Regions from separate parts of the Homo sapiens genome. Here region 2 is linked to region 1. Evidence: fine-mapped expression QTL. Tissue or cell type: sigmoid colon. Region 1 holds a variant in brackets; the other region holds the start of a gene. All regions are shown on one strand. Distances are between the middles of the regions.

What was found. PIP is the estimated chance that this variant, and not a neighbour inherited with it, causes the effect.
Region 2: it holds the start of DGKQ, and the variant in region 1 is fine-mapped to the expression of DGKQ in sigmoid colon (GTEx, PIP 0.99).

What each region holds. Positions count from the first base shown.
Region 1 is chr4:900,088-908,087 of GRCh38, reverse strand. GAK (cyclin G associated kinase) reads left to right here. Exons shown (of 28, transcript NM_005255.4): 5 at 3,309-3,451. Among named protein-coding and RNA genes, the nearest start is that of GAK, 28 kb to the left of the region's middle. The variant T/C (reference allele first, on the strand shown) is at 4,212.
Region 2 is chr4:969,819-977,818 of GRCh38, reverse strand. It overlaps DGKQ (diacylglycerol kinase theta), which reads left to right and starts at 4,250. Exons shown (of 23, transcript NM_001347.4): 1 at 4,250-4,607; 2 at 6,747-6,826. The coding sequence starts at 4,337. It overlaps LOC124900645 (a long non-coding RNA gene), which reads right to left. Exons shown (of 2, transcript XR_007057989.1): 2 at 7,878-8,000. RefSeq lists silencers at 3,982-4,321, 4,422-4,871 and enhancers at 5,106-5,746, 7,583-8,000.

The DNA.
Region 1 (8,000 bases):
TTCCGGCTTTGGAAGGCTTGAGCAGGACGGGTGTGAAAACTGAAGCTGCTCGGCGTCCAGTGTGTTCCCAGGATATGTGCACGAGGGAGCGGCGGGGACAGGGCCGGGGCCAGCGGCTCATCGCTGACCCTGCATGGGGTGGTGTGGGAAGGAGAGGGGCCGGGCCCAGCCCCTCAAGTCATAAATACACGAGGCAGACTAACGCATGCGCGCGCCAGCTCACTCCTGGGGACTGCCTGTCTGGAGCAGCATGTGCGGCTGAGAGCTGAGCTGCAGGGCTCTGTGGATGGCACAGCTGTGCCAGGGGAGAGCCGTGGCATCTCTGAGAAGCGGGAGGGATGTGGGCTCCCCCGTGCAGCTGCAGGTTCAGGGCTCACTGGAGGAGGCCTGGAGGTCGGGCTCCGGGGATGTGCCCGGTCCCTCCCATGAGGCAACCCCTCCAGTGTCCTCTGAGGGAAGAGCCACATACCGGTTCCCCACTCAGCCACATACAGAATTTTTACTTTTAAAAACCCCATTTATTCTCACTGAGAATGAGGCACTGAACAGGGGGCCCAGTTACCACTGAAACAGACTCGCCCATCCATGATGGCCAGCGTAGAGGGCAAGTCACCCCCACTCTGACTCCCCGGGCCTGGCCTCAGCCTCTCCCGGGTCTGTTCCTCTCTTTCTGAGCACCCCATTCCTTCTATGGGTGCCCCTCATTTTTCCTGAGAGCCCCCCTGTTTCTCAGAGGGTCAGCACAAAGCTTTTGAGGGAGCTGTGGTGAGGGCTGAGAGGGCTTTCACCTGGGGTTGAGGGCCAGGGCCGGCAGAGCTGGGGGAGTGGGAGGGCCCCTCAGCTGGGTGCAGGTGGGGGCAGTGCTGGGCTGTGCTGGGGACACGCAGGTGGGTCCGGTCTGTGAGTCGATTCTAGCGTGGCCCAGCCTGAGCTGTGGCAGGTCCCGACCGGCTCTCACACCATGCCTTCATTGTCAGTGGAATTGAGTCGGCTACACGCTCTGCTGTGTGCAGGCATCGGGGGCTCAGTGACTCGCCAGACACAGCTGATCCATGCCCATGGCAGGTGGTTGGGTGGCTCGAAGAGCCAGGGAGAGAATGAGTCCCAGGAGAAGGGTGCACGTTTAGGTGGTGTGGGCAGAGTTGGTTCCTTGGGAGGTGAGCAGAAGGGGCGGTCTGGGAGGCATCCTGGCCGCAGAAGCAGCTTGTGAGGGGTCCTGAGGCAGGGAGGAAGGGAGGCCAGTGTGGCTGGGAGCGCAAGCTCTGGCAGCGTGGGGGAGACCCTGAGTGTGGGTTCCGTGGGTGGTGGTACTGGCCTTGGCTCTGGGGCTGCAGGGGTCGTGGCCTTCAGGGGTGTGGAGTGGGATGAGCAGAGGGTGACGGTGGCTGCTCTGTAGAGAGCAGAGGCAGGAGCACGGGGCTGAAAAGATGGGGCACAAGATGCAGAGGCCCCAGGGATGATGCCACACATGGACTGTGGCCAGCTGAAGTGGGCAAGACCCAGGGTAAGATCAGGGTAGGAGCAGGATGGGTTGGGTCTGCACGTCTGTGGGGGCTGCATAGGGGTGCTGGGGTGACTGGCAGTGTGAATGCTTCAGTCCCCAGCAGGTCCTCAGCCCTGCGTGCTGCCCCGGCCCCACATCCCTGGTTTCCTGGTTGGGCCAGGGCTAGGGTGCCTGGAAGGTGCCAGCCATGGCAGGACGGGCTCCCTGGGGTGTGGGTCACGCACAGGCACTGATACTGTCGTGAATGTGAGAATGATCATTTGTCATCTGAGGACACTGAGTGTTCACTTAGAGGTTTGAGCACTTGTGTATTTGTAGTCATTTCTCTTTGTATCCATGTTAATGACATGCCTGGCTCGGTTGCCAGGACACAGATGTGATTCTCACGTTAACGGCTCGCCGGCTCGGCTGCTGAGATGCCAGTGTGGTTCTCACGTTAATGGCTTGCCACCTCGGCTGCTGGGACGCCAATGTAGTTCTCATGTTAACGGCACGCCAGCTCAACTGCTGGGATGCCGATGTGGTTCTCACGTTAACGGCATGCCAGCTCAGCTGCTGGGATGCTGACGCGGTTGTTGCTTCGGTGACGCTTGGGCGTCTTGCCCCCTGGCCTCTGCTCTGTGTGTGACTTGACTGTGGGGCTGCTCCGAGCCCACCCCTGCCACTGGGTGGTGGTCCCACACACGGGGCTGAGGTGGGCATCCTCATACCTGCAGCCCTTTCTGCAGCAGCTGAAGGAAGGAAAGGTGGGAGCGGCACTCAGGGTGGGCTTAACTGGGACTGTGGCTGGAAAAGGCAGCGTGGCCTGGTGTGGTGGCGTCTGCAGTAACGTGGCCTGGGGTGTGGCGGAGTCCGTAGCATGGCCTGGGGCATGGCAGAGTTCAAAGTGTGGTGTGGCGTCTGTAATGTGGCCCAACGTGGCAGAGTCCGTGGCATGGCCTGGGGCGTGGCAGAGTCCGAAGCGTGGCCTGGTTTGGCGGAGTCCGTAACGTGGCCTGGGGCGTGGCGAAGTCCGTAGCATGGCCTGGGGCGTGGCGGAGTCCGTAGCGTGGCATGGGGCGTGGCGGAGTCCGTAGCGTGGCATGGGGCGTGGCGGAGTCCGTAGCATGGCATGGGGCGTGGCGGAGCCCCTAGCGTGGCGCGGCGTGGCAGAGTCTGTAGCGTGGCCTGGGGCCAGGGAGGGCAGAGCACTGATTGCTCCACGGTGATGATGTTAACCGTAGAGAGTCGTGACTGCAAGTTGTCCAGGTTCTTGGCATTTTGAACAAACTGGACAGAACGCCCAGCGAAACAAAGAAAGAATGAAGCAACAAAAGAACGAAAGCGGGAATTTATTGAAAACAAAAGTACACTCCACGGTGTGGGGGTGGCCCAAGCAGCGGCTCAAGGGCCCAGATGCAGAATCTTCTCGGGTCCAAATACCCCCTAGAGGTTTCCCACTGGCCACTTTGTGCTCACCTCATGTAAACGAAGTGGTAGCCCGCCATCAGCCTAATGGTTGCAGAAAGCAGCCAACCAGAAGGTCACACTCCTGTGCAAACATCTGATTGGTTACGAAAAGCAATCAGAAGACAGGGTGAAGTTACAGAGTTGCAAACGAAGAGGAGATCTGCAGTCAGGCAGTTTCCCATCTGCCAGGCAGAAAAGGTCAAAGGGAGTCACCTCTGGTCGTTTTGTTACTTAGGTGTGGAAAGTCAGGGTTTTCCTTTCCATTTAGTTCTGGGAAGTCCGCGTGAAACAGCCCTAGGTTCCCTGTCTCCGGACCCTGTTCTCCTGCCTCCATGTGAGTTTCATTCTCTTTTAGGGCAGCTGGTGGAATTTTTGAAGAAAATGGAATCTCGAGGCCCCCTTTCGTGCGACACGGTTCTGAAGATCTTCTACCAGACGTGCCGCGCCGTGCAGCACATGCACCGGCAGAAGCCGCCCATCATCCACAGGGACCTCAAGGTAGTGGCTCCCTCCACACGCGGCTGCCAAGGCCTCTGTGTGCGGGTCCCACTCGGTTAGGAGCCGCCCATCATCCACAGGGACCTCAAGGTAGCGGCTGCTGAGGCCTCTGTGTGCGGGTCCCGCTCGGTTAGGAGCCGCCCATCATCCACAGGGACCTCAAGGTAGCGGCTGCTGAGGCCTCTGTGTGCGGGTCCCGCTCGGTTAGGAGCCGCCCATCATCCACAGGGACCTCAAGGTAGTGGCTCCCTCCACACGCGGCTGCCAAGGCCTCTGTGTGCGGGTCCCGCTCGGTTAGGAGCCGCCCATCATCCACAGGGACCACAAGGTCGTGGCTCCCTCCACACGCGGCTGCCAAGGCCTCTGTGTGCGGGTCCCGCTCGGTTAGGAGCCGCCCATCATCCACAGGGACCACAAGGTAGTGGCTCCCTCCACACGCAGCTGCCAAGGCCTCTGTGTGCGGGTCCCACTCGGTTAGGAGCCGCCCATCATCCACAGGGACCACAAGGTAGTGGCTCCCTCCACACGCGGTTCACAGCCTCTGTGGGGGGCTCCCGCTCAGTTAGGATGCAGGGGTGAGAGCAGGTGAGGCTACACCATCTCACCTAGAAGATGTGCGTGAGCCTCTCAACAGTGGAAGCGGATCTTCCAGAAACGTTGCTTTTCCAGCCCTGAAGAAAATTAGCATCTGTCTCACAGGCCTTTGCCGACAGAGATCCCGGGATGGCCCCGCCTCCCTGCTGGGGGCCTTCACGCCCAG[T/C]TGGGGGTGCTCACAGCCTGGAGCTTCCGTCTGGAATACCAGGTCCCCATGCTGGATGCTTGCTCACTCCAGTTTCCGTGGGGAGCTGTGGACGAGGGTGCCCGCCGGTGGTGTCAGTTCAGGACCCTATTCCTGCTCACCCCACACTCCTTCCTCGGCCGCCCCCCCACCGCCCCCCGGTGGTGTCACTATAGGCCCCGCACTCCTGCTCACCCCACGCTCCTTCCTCAGTCCCCTGGTGGTGTCAGTTCAGGCCCCGCATTCCTGCTCATCCCACGCTCCTTCCTCAGCCCCCCAGTGGTGTTGGCCCAGGCCCCCAACTCCTGCTCACCCAGTGCCCCTTCCTTGGCCCCTGGGCAGTCCTGGACCCCACAGTGCCTCCCTGGTTCGGCCTCTTGGAGCTGGGAGGAAGCCTGGCGCTCCTCTGCCTGGCCCTGTCTCAGGCGCTGGGGTCGGGGGCCGGACCCCTTGCCTACTCAGCTTGAGGGGAGCTCTTTGCACTTCCTGACTGTCCCCCCACTGCACCTCCCCTTCCGTTCACCGGCAGACTCTCCTGCCCATCTCTCCTGTCACCACGGGTTTCTCCGAGGCGTGGCATCCCGGGGTTGGCGTGATGTGGGCATGAGCCACTGGCTGCATGTAAAAGGGCCGTCCTGCCCACCACACTGCCACACAGATGCTTCTAGACTGGGGCTGGGCTCGCGCTCCATCCCTGCCCACCACACCGCCACACAGGTGGTTCTGGGCCGGGGCTGGGCCTGCGCTCCGTGCTGCTGCCGGCACTGCGCGGTTTCCATGTGATGTGGCTGCTTCCCACAGCCCCACAGAGGACACTCCTGCCCCGTGGGCTGTCCATGCCCTGAGCTGCCTGTGTTGATTTTGGCTGGCCTGGTGGGGAGTATAGTCTGACGGGTTGTGATTTTGCCTTTTCCTGATGTTAATGAAGTTGAATGTTTGTTATAGTCATTCGGGTCTTGCTCTTCAGTAAACTTCCTTTTGTTTCTTGCCTTTTTCAAAGATTTTCCACTGGCTTGTGTGTTTGGTTCGTTGGAGCAGCTTGTGTATTCTCATAATCTGCTAAGTGTCGCCTGTGCTGCCGGCGTCTTCTGGTTTGTGGCCCAGTTTTCACTCCTGCTGTTGTGTTTTTTAAAAAACCTAGGACGTTGTGAGGCTTCTCCATTATCTGTGAAGCCTGTGCCTGGCCTGCCCATGGTGGGCCTCGTCCTCCGTGCTGAGGCTTTTGCTGAAGAGGTTTTTTGGGGTTTTTTTTTTTTTTTTTTGAGTCAGTCACTCTACAGCCCAGGCTGGAGTGCAGCGGCACTGACGGGGCTCACTGCCGCCTCGGCCGACTTGGCCCAGGTGATCTCCCACCTGAGCCTCCTGAGTAGCTGGGACCACAGGCGCACACCACGCCTGCCTAGTTTTTGTATTTTCAGTAGAAATGGGGTTTCACCATGTTGCCCAAGCTGGTCCAGAACTCCTGAGCTCGAGTGATCCACCCGCCTCAGCCTCTGAAAGGGGTCGATTCCAGGTGTGAGCCACCGCTCCCAGGCTGCCAAAGTTTTAAAGCCTTATCACTCCCAGATACTTTTGTCCATGTCTCTGGGGACGTGAGGACATTTCTGTTTTTTTTTTTTTTTTAGGCGGAGTCTTGCTCTGTTGCCCAGGCTGGAGTGCAGTGGCACGATCTCGGCTCATGCAGCCTCTGCCTCCTGGGTTCCAGCGATTCTCCTACCTCAGCCTCCCGAGTAGCTGGGATTACAGGCATATGCCACCACGCCGGGCTAATTTTTGTACTTTTAGTAGAGACAGGGTTTCACCATGTTGTCTAGGCTGGTTTCGAACTCCTGACCTCAAGTCACCCTCCCGCCTTGGCCTCCCACAGTGCTGGGATTACAGGCGTGAGACACCACGCCCGGCCAGGACATTTTTTATGTGGTTTTGACACCATTATCCGCAGTGAGGTGGGAGGAACCGAGCCTTGTCTCTTGCCCTCCTGTTCTCAGCCTTCCCTGGTTTTCCCAAAGTGTGGCTTCTCTCAGACCTCGCTAATCGGGAGCGGCGCCTCTGGCCACGGCTTGTGGAGGATGCCCTGTGCTGTCCTTGGCTCCCCGCCACTGCCCAGGCCAAGGGGACGAGGAGGCCAGTGAGGCCCCAGCCCCGTGGCGTCTCTTGTGGAGCACGGAGCTGTGTTTCAGATCCTGCTCCCAGCACCCGCCTCAGCTGCTCCTCCAGCTGCTGAAATCTACCTGGCCTGTGTCCAGAGGTTTCGTTCATCTGGAATTGACCTTGTGTGACCTGAGGTGGGAGCTGTATCCTTGTGTCTACCTGGCCCTGCACCCCGTGCATCAGCTCATGTCTGCCCATGCAGCCACCTGGGCCCCGCCTCCTCTCCAGCGTCTGCTCGTGGGTGCCTAGGAGGCCTCAGAGCCCCCCAGCTCTCCCCGTGTGCCCTAGGTGGGGGATCCAAGGCCGTGGCTCTCCACGTGTGCCCCGGGTGGGAGGCCCAAGGCCGTGGCTCTCCACGTGTGCCCTGGGTGGGGGATCCAAGGCCGTGGCTCTCCCCGTGTGCCCTGGGTGGGGGATCCAAGGCCGTGGCTCTCCCTGTGTGCCCTGGGTGGGGGTGCCTAAGCCGTGGGCACCCATGCTGAGCTGTTCTTAACTGCACAGGCTCATTCCGCCTCAGCCTGCCTCAGCCCACCCAGGGCCAAGGCTCTGGCAGGCAGCTTCCCTCTGTGTTTCTCTGGTTAGGGCTGCCTTTTCTCTACTTGGCTGTACACTCCTACTTTATAGCACAGGTGTCTTCACGTAGATTTTGAAAATGGGTAAGTGTGGCCTTTTTCGTTTGTCCCCTGAACTCAGAGGGCCTAGAATGCCAGGGTGTAAGGTGGCCGACTGGACAGATGCCCCATGGCAGAAGCCTGTGGGCACCGCCATAGAGCCTGCTCCTGAGCCCCAGGCCCTTTCGCTCCCATGGCCACCGCTGTGGAGCCTGCTCCTGAGCCATGCCCCAGGCCCTTTCACCCCTTCTCCTTCCTTTCCTCCCTCCCTCTCTTCCTTCTGTTTCTTCTTTCCTTGTATTTTACTTTTCTAAAAGTACATTCTGCCCAGCACACAGGGTTGCTTTTGAGGGAAGCTTCTTCAAGGTTGCAAGCAAGACCCCTGGTTTCCAGAAACCCATGCGCCTGAGGCCCCATTCTGACGGAAGGGGCTGCAGGGCTCCATGAGGGGCCAGTCCTGCCCGTGGAAGGTGCTGTTTGCTGTCTGGGTGGTTCTTCCTGAGGAGTCTCTGAGTGGTGGATTTTCTCATGACACCGAGACCCTCCTGGTTCGCATTTTTGAAGTGTGATGGGTCGTGTAGCGGGGCTTGAGTGTGTATTTTAAGGAGAACAGAAACAGAAGGGTTGAATTGGTGAAGAATCCGTGTCTGTGAGCCAGGCCTGCACTTCACAGCACTGGCCTTGCTGCTGCTCCACAGCGGCGTGGCGGGAACCCAGGCCAGCCCTGCAGCCCGCGTGTGTTCACCTGTGGCCTCCGCCGTGGGAGTCTGGACGGCTGTTTGCGGAGGGGCAGGCAGCACACGTGGCCCCACTCGCCTGCCCCGTGCGTCGTCCTGCTGTGCGCACAGCTTCGTCTCTGTTGGCTGTAGAATGGGAACGGGCACAGGTGGCCCCACTCGCCTGCCCTGTGCATCGTCCTGCTGTGCGCACAGCTTCGTCTCTGTTGGCTGTAGAATGGGAACGGGCACACGCGAGGGGATGGGCACTCCTGGGCCTTCAGTGGCCGTGT
Region 2 (8,000 bases), 70 kb before region 1:
TCAGGAGGCTAAGGCAGGAGAATCGCTTGAACCTGGGAGGCAGAGGTTGCAGTGAGCGGAGATCGCACCACTGCACTCCAGCCTGGGCAACAAGAGCAAGACTCCGTCTAAAAAAAAAAAAAGACATCCCCATTGGCTTCAGGCTGCCCGAAACCTGTGCAAGCTCCAGCCCTGTGCTTACTTGGTTCTCTGCCTTGTGGCAGAGGTTCCCAGAGCTGTGGGGAAAGCGCCCCCAACAAGCAGCTGGACCCACCTCACACGACACCCCCAGATCAGTCTTGGCTGGCTCACAGATGTAAATGTAAAACGTAAAAAGACTCCCCTCCCAATAGGGAAACCTATTTAAGACCTCAGGGGAGGCAGGTGCTTAAACAGGACATACGCCTTGTGGAAGGGAAGGCTTGGTCAGTCGGATGGCAGGAAAACTAGGACCCCCTAAGAGCCGTTGCATGGAGGGTCTAGGCACATGTGACATGCACCGGCCAGCCCCCTTGCTCAGAGATCCTGCATCTGCAAATACACCAGCTTGCTGAATGTGTTTAAGCCCCAGAATCAATACCCACCGTGCTTCCGCAGTTACTCATGCACACGCTCAGAGTGAAGAAGTCTAGGATCCGGTTGCATGGCCGGCTCCTCCGAGGCTGCGAGGCAGGACCGGTCCCATCCTCTCCCCAGCTCCCTGTGGCGGCCAGCAGCCCTCGGTGATCCTTGGCCTGAGAAAGCACCGCCCTGACCTCGGCCTTCATCTTCGCACGGCCTCTCCCTGCATGCCTGTCTCCAGATCCCCTTTCCATAAGGGCGCCTCATGCTGGGGTGAGGCCCGCCCTTGTGACCGCACCTTAACCTGATTTTCTCTGTAAAGACTCTGTCTCCAAACAAGTCTCATTCTGAGGTGCTGGGGGTTGGAATGTCAACATAGAATTTTGGGGGGACAGTTCTACCCATAAGTATGGTTAGACTTTAGACCCTGGTTTCCTCAGGGGAGTGGTGGGGGGAGAGGCCCTCACCAGAACCAAACATGCCAGTACCCCCATCTCTACTTCCCATCCTCCAGAGCAGTAAGAAACACGTTTCCTGTGGTTTAAGCCTCCAGTCTGTGGTCTTCTGTCACGGCAGCCCACGTTGACCAAGACAGACAGGAAAGGGAGTGGGAGACACAGGCCTGGAGACGTGGACGGGCCTGCACAGAAGAAGCTGTCCCTCTGGCAGACAAGCTCCGTTGTGGCGGGTGCCGTGGTCCAGGCTGGGATTCAAAGTTGTTGTTTTTTTTTTTTTTTTCCAAGGCAGAAGAATTTTTCTTAGTACAGAACAAAATGAAAAGTCTCCCATGTCTACTTCTATCCACACAGACCCGGCAACCATCCGATTTCTCAATTTTTTCCCCACCCTTCCCGCCTTTCTATTCCACAAAACCGCCATTGTCATCATGGCCCATCCCCAATGAGCCGCTGGACACACCTCCCAGACGGGGTCGTGGCCGGGCAGAGGGGCTCCTCACTTCCCAGTAGGGGCGGCTGGGCAGAAGCGCCCCTCACCTCCCGGATGGGGCGGCTGGCCGGGCAGAGGGGCTCCTCACTTCCCAGTAGGGGCGGCCGGGCAGAGGAGCCCCTCACCTCCCGGACGGGGCGGCTGCCGGGCGGAGACGCTCCTCACTTCCCAGACGGGGTGGCTGCTGGACGGAGGGGCTCCTCACTTCTCAGACAGGGCGGTTGCCAGGCAGAGGGTTTCCTCACTTCTCAGACGGGGCGGCCGGGCAGAGACGCTCCTCACCTCCCAGACAGGGTTGTGGCCAACAGAGGTGCTCCTCACATCCCAGACAGGGCGGCGGGGCAGAGGTGCTCCCCACATCTCAGACGATGGGCGGCCGGGCAGAGACGCTCCTCACTTCCTAGATGGGAAGGCGGCGGGGAAGAGGCGCTCCTCGCTTCCTAGATGGGATGGCGGCCGGGCAGAGACGCTCCTCACTTTCCAGACTGGGCAGCCAGGCACAGGGGCTCCTCATATCCCAGACGATGGGGGGCCAGGCAGAGACGCTCCTCACTTCCCAGACGGGGTGGCGGCTGGGCAGAGGCTGCAATCTCGGCACTTTGGGAGGCCAAGGCAGGCGGCTGGGAGGTGGAGGTTGTAGCGAGCCGAGATCACGCCACTTCACTCCAGCCTGGGCACCATTGAGCACTGAGTGAACGAGACTCCGTCTGCAATCCCGGCACCTCGGGAGGCCGAGGCTGGCGGATCACTCGCGGTTAGGAGCTGGAGACCAGCCCGGCCAACACAGCAAAACCCCATCTCCACCAAAAAAAACACGAAAACCAGTCAGGCGTGGCGGCGCGCACCTGCAATGGCAGGCACTCGGCAGGCTGAGGCAGGAGAATCAGGCAGGGAGGTTGCAGTGAGCCGAGATGGCGGCAGTACCGTCCAGCTTTGGCTCGGCATCAGAGGGAGACCGTGGAAGGAGACCGTGGAGGGAGAGGGAGAGGGAGAGGGAGAGGGAGAGCGGATTCAAAGTTTTAAGGCCCCTTCAGCGAGAAGCTGCTGGTGGCTTTGGAGGACGTTCTAGGAAGTCCGTGGAGTGTTTGCTGGAAGGATGCTTTGCCCGCCATTTTAATTAACGTGTGCGTCAGAAAGCAGAAAGTTCTGGCAGAAATGGTAGATGAGGGTTTTCCTTTTTAAGATGTTTTTGATGCTCTCCACTGTCTCCTAAATGGAGAAAGGTATGTCCTTAAACAGTTTTTCCTCAGAAGCCAGCTGCAGTTTGCACCGTGGTTCACTGCCATGAGCACCACGGGCTCAGTGAGCCACCTCCTCCTCATGGGCCACAAGGCTGGGTCCTAGCTCTCCCAGGGCCCAGGCACAGGGGGTCTTGGGGCCTGGCTGAGGGCAGGCTCGGGGTGGGGTCTGGCACAGGAGACAGGGAATGCAGGGGTGGTGACTCCGGGCCTCCCAGCATAGGTGGGCATCAGGAAAGGATTTCTGCGGAGCACCCTGCCACAGGGCCTCTGCTCCGGCTTTCCGCCTGGACGCCTTCCTGCTGCCCCCAGGCAGCCCTCATTCTTCAGGGTGCTGTCTGTCCCAGAGCGCAGCTCCTGGAGGGTGAAGGTTCCCTGAAGCTTTGGCTGCATTCCCTTTACCCTGGGGTCCACCCAGGGTCCTACCCCAGCAGCTCAACCAGCAGCTTCTGGACAAACAGAATCCTCCCTGGTTGAGGACTGCGTCTCCCCCCTCACCATCTCAGGGGCCTGCTCCTCCCTCCTCAGACTGGGTCCCCGGCTCACCCTCCATTCCTGGAATCCCCTGTGGTCTGGGTGCCCTCACCAGCACAGCCCCTAGGACAGGTCTCCCGGCTCCTTCCCTCCAGAGTCCACAGCCCCCAGCCCCTTTCAGGCGTCTCCCCACAGGCCCTTCCCTGCTCTTCCTGCCCCCTGAGACCGCCTGCTGCGATGGCCCTGGAGCCCTGCCCTCTGCAGGTCCCCGCTCGGTGGCCCGGGGTGGGGTCCCCCGCTTCGCAGACTCCTATCCACAGTTAGGCCCACGGGGGCAAGGACCCAGACTGCTGCCAGCGGCGGGGAGGGGTGACCCGCGTGGACGCGGCTCTCAAAGGACACCAGCGCCACCTGAACAAGACCCGTGGCGCGCACGAGGCAGGAGAGCTGGGCGCTCGGCGTGAGGCCCGGGTGGGGGTCGCGAGCGGACAGCCCCGGGCCGCAGGCGGGTCCCCCGTTGCAGTGAGGACAGCGGTCGGGCGCCGGGGGTCCTGGGCCTCGGGCAGGGCCAAGTCTGCGCGTGCGAAGACCCCACGGACGGAGCCGCCCAAGCACCGCAAACCCCGCTTTCCGGGACCCACTGTGGGAGGCCCGCAGCGCTGCCCCTCGCCGGGGGCGTCCTGCGCGGCCGGGGGCCTCGGACAGCATCCGCGTCTCGCGTGGGAGGCGCCTGTCTGCGCAGCCGCGGGCCGGGACCCCGCAGGTACAACGCCGCGCGTGCGGCGTCCGGAGAAGTCTGGCCCGGCTGCGGTCAAACCGAGCCCACGTGGACCAGTTCCCCACGGCTGGTTCGCGAGCGGCCTCCGCGCACAGGCCCCGCCCCTTAGCAGGCCCCGCCCCGCCCGATCACAGGGCCCGCCCCCAGCCCCGCTCATCGACGGGGCACGGCTGCGACCCTTAGCAGGCCCCGCCCCGCCAGCCCCCAGATCCGCCCACCAGCAGCGCCCCGCCCCGCCCCGCGGCCCGCGCCTGCGCAGTGGGGCAGGCGCAGTCGGAAGCAGTGTACCGGGCCGTGGAGCGGCGGCTCCTGTACCCCCGGCGCGGACCTAAAGGGGCTCGGGCCGCTCGGGCCGGGAATGGCGGCGGCGGCCGAGCCCGGGGCCCGCGCCTGGCTGGGCGGCGGCTCCCCGCGCCCCGGCAGCCCGGCCTGCAGCCCCGTGCTGGGCTCAGGAGGCCGCGCGCGCCCGGGGCCGGGGCCGGGGCCGGGACCCGAGCGGGCGGGCGTCAGAGCCCCGGGCCCCGCTGCCGCGCCGGGACACAGCTTCCGGAAGGTGACGCTCACCAAGCCCACCTTCTGCCACCTCTGCTCCGACTTCATCTGGGGGCTGGCCGGCTTCCTGTGCGACGGTGAGCGCCCGGGCCCGATGCCTACCCGGCTGCAGCCCTGCCTCTGCCCCGTGGGCGGGAGCCTGAGCGGAGGTGGCACCGGCGCTTTCGGGGGAGTGGAGGGCGGGGTCCCAGCCCTGCTCGCGGGACGTGCCTTCGTGGGGCGGCCGGGGCCTGTGCGCCGTGGGGCCGCTCCAGGCTGCGGGCTTCCTCACCTGGGAGGTGCGGACAGCATCTCCATAGTGCCGCGCGATGGCTGCGACCCAGGGGCTGTGCCTGATGCGAGCGGGACCTCAGCTGGGGTCCCCATGGCCGGCTTCCTCTCCCAGTGGCTGGGGCAGCAGGTGTGGCTAAGCAGGGCTGGCCTGGGCCCCTGGCCCTAGCCCTTCTCATGCTGTGGCCCAGAGTCCCAGCCTCCTGGAGAGCCAGGCCGGGCCCTGCCGTCCCGGTGCGCGTGTCCCAGCCCTGCTCCACCCAGCTGCCCAGCTCTTGCTGGGGTGAGGACAGCCCTTCCCTGTTCTGGGCCCGGGTGCTCCCAGGGCTGGCTCTCATCTTCCCCCGCGGCAAGCAGGCGGGCCCCGGGGACTACAGCCCAGCCTCTGGAGGGAGCGAGGGACAGGGGGACCACAGCCCAGCCTCTGGAGGGAGCGAGGGACAGGGGGACCACAGCCCAGCCTCTGGAGGGAGCGAGGGACAGGACCGGAGTTCTGGACGTTTGACACTTACTGTGTCCTGGCCAGGGACGCTGAGGTGGGAGGGGCTATCCTTAGCCTCAGGCCTTTCTCTGGGGATAGGGGTCCACTCAGGTCAGGGTCCGCAGAGGAGACTGTCCCCTCACACGGGGATGTCGTCTGTGGTGGAAACGGCATGGTTGTTCTGACCCCCAGGGCTGCACAAGGTGGCCTGGCCCGCCAGCTTCTTTGTCACGTCAGAGCATGGCACAGCCATGCCTGCTGCCTGGGGATGCCAGGGGCTTCCCCAGAGGTGGGGAGTGTGCATGTGTGGCTGAGGCAGCTCCCGACTTGAGGCCAGACTCCGGGTCCCCTCCCCCTTCGGAGGGGGCAAAAGGGCCCTCCTGGGCAGCACCCGTGGAAGAGGGGCCAGCAGCGGTATGGGAAGGAGGGCACCCTCCCCGCCAGGAGACCCAAGCGTGGGGCGTGGGGTGAGCAGGCCCTGTCTCCATGGCAGAGGAGGGACCTGGGTGCTGCCTGTCCCCCCTTCTCTCGGTGGACCCTGGCCTGCTTCCAGAGCTTTTCTCTTAAGCTGCCAGGAGAAGCTTCTCCCGGTCCCATCTGGAGACTGGGGTGGCTAGGGCTGCAGCAGGTGAAGGGCGGCACCAGCGGGGCCTTCTGGAAGAGCTCCCTGTCCCAGCTGGACTGCCTGGGGCTCCGTGGCACAACCTTCACCCGGGGCTGTCTTGGCAGTTGTGTCACTGGGTGCCCTGCCCACTCCCAGCCCCCGCAGCCTTTGCCCCAGCCCAGGGTTCCTGCCCTCCCTTCTGCCCCGGCCCCACCCTCCTGTCTGTTTTACTGCTGGGGTGTGGCGCTTGCTCCTCTTATGCCCTCCTGAGCACCCCGCCGGCTCAGGTGCTCCCTGGGTCCTATGCACACAGCCAGAGCTCCTTGGGAGGCTTGGGGCTGTCCACTCCCCAGCGGCTCCTGCCTCCCAGAGCCCTCACCTGCCTTGGGTGGCTCTCGGTCTCAGGCACGGTGCACAGCACGTAGCAGGGACAATTAGGGGTATGCGTAGTTTCGGGGGAGTGAGACACAGATGTCCTTGGTAAAGCCAATCTGCCGAAGGCCGAGAAGCCCCTGCCACCTGGCGAACCTGGTGAGCCCAGGGCTGCCCCTTGAGAGGCCCAACTGCAGAGGCAGGAGGAGTGCTGGGCCTACGTGCGAAGGGGAGGGACTGCTCTCTGGATGAGAGGATACACTCATTGTCCTCCAGGATGGTCAGGACCACCCAGGTTCTTGCTCCTGGGCTCCTGGGCTGCAGGCTCTCTCCAATGAGTGGGCAGGGTGGTGGGGGAACTCGAGGACCACAGGGCCCCTGGTGCAGCATGGTGGGTATGGCAGTCATTGCCCTGGGGCCTCTAACTTCCTGGGTAGGACAGCCATTGGGTAGGACAGGGGCCAACTCACACAGTGCTCATTCCCACAGTCTGCAATTTCATGTCTCATGAGAAGTGCCTGAAGCACGTGAGGATCCCGTGCACGAGTGTGGCACCCAGCCTGGTCCGGGTGAGTGTGGGGCTGGGTGTTGCACCTGCAAGAGGCTGGGGGATGTGTCAGCTCTCGTAGGGTCGAGGCACTGAAAACCTTCATGTCAGACGTTAGTGATACCTGCAGTTGAAAGGCAAAGGGCAGATACTGCTCGGGATTAAAAGGCTGAGCACCCTGCATGGATCTGCAGGGAATGATGGTGATAAAAGCCAGTCCCCGAGGTCGCAAATAGCAAGATCCTGTCCATAGAATGTGCTCAAAATGACGAAACTAAAGGGAGCACAGATGTAGAGAGGTTTCCAGGCGGAGAAGTGGGCGTGGCTGTGACATGCAGCGTGAGGGCTCCTGGGGGGGATGGAGATTTCGGCATCTGGCGTGACCTCAGTTTGCAAGATCACACACTTAGGGGAGCTGACAAAGGCTTCAGGGGGTCTGTTCAGTTTCCTCACAGCTATGTGTGAACCCACAAGCATCTCAAGGAAGCTTGAATAAAAAGCAAAGGCAGGAAGCCTGGGTGCCTGAGGGTGTCTTGGCCACCACCCTCCCTCTAAGGGCTCTGGGTGGGGCAGGGAGGTGACTGGCCCAGGTCACTGCAGGGCACAGGGGACTTCCCTTCTCTGGTGACAGTGGTGACAGCAGGGACATGTAGGAAGGGCCAGGCTTATTCCTCCCTCAGCTGTCAGCGTCGCCGTCTTCAGACTGAGGCCCCCCAAGTCCGCATTCCCTGATGCGTTCAGGCTGCAGGTGGGGCGCAGGCCGCGAGGCAGGCCCGGGTGTGCAGCAGGACGGGAAGCCAGGCCAGCAGGCACACCTGCCACTGGCGGGCATCCGGCTGCGCCGTCCCCTCTAATGTCTGACGCCCTGTTCCTAATGATGCAGTTCCCCGGGTGTGAGCAGGAGGCCTTAGGCCGGTGGTCCTGGTGGTGGCCGACACCCTGGTGATTCCACACTGGCTTGGGCGGCCCCTCGTCATGTGGACGGCCCGAGGCTGCCGCTTTTTAAAATTGATTTTAATGTCTTCTATACTTTGCTAAATTGGGAAAATATAAGTATGTATTTCAACTGTATGCATGATAGGAAATTTAGAAGATGTATTTAACGGCCGGGCGCTGTGGCTCACGCCCGTAATCCCAGCACTTTGGGAGGCCGAGGCAGGTAGATCATGAGGTCAGGAGATCGAGACCATCCTGGC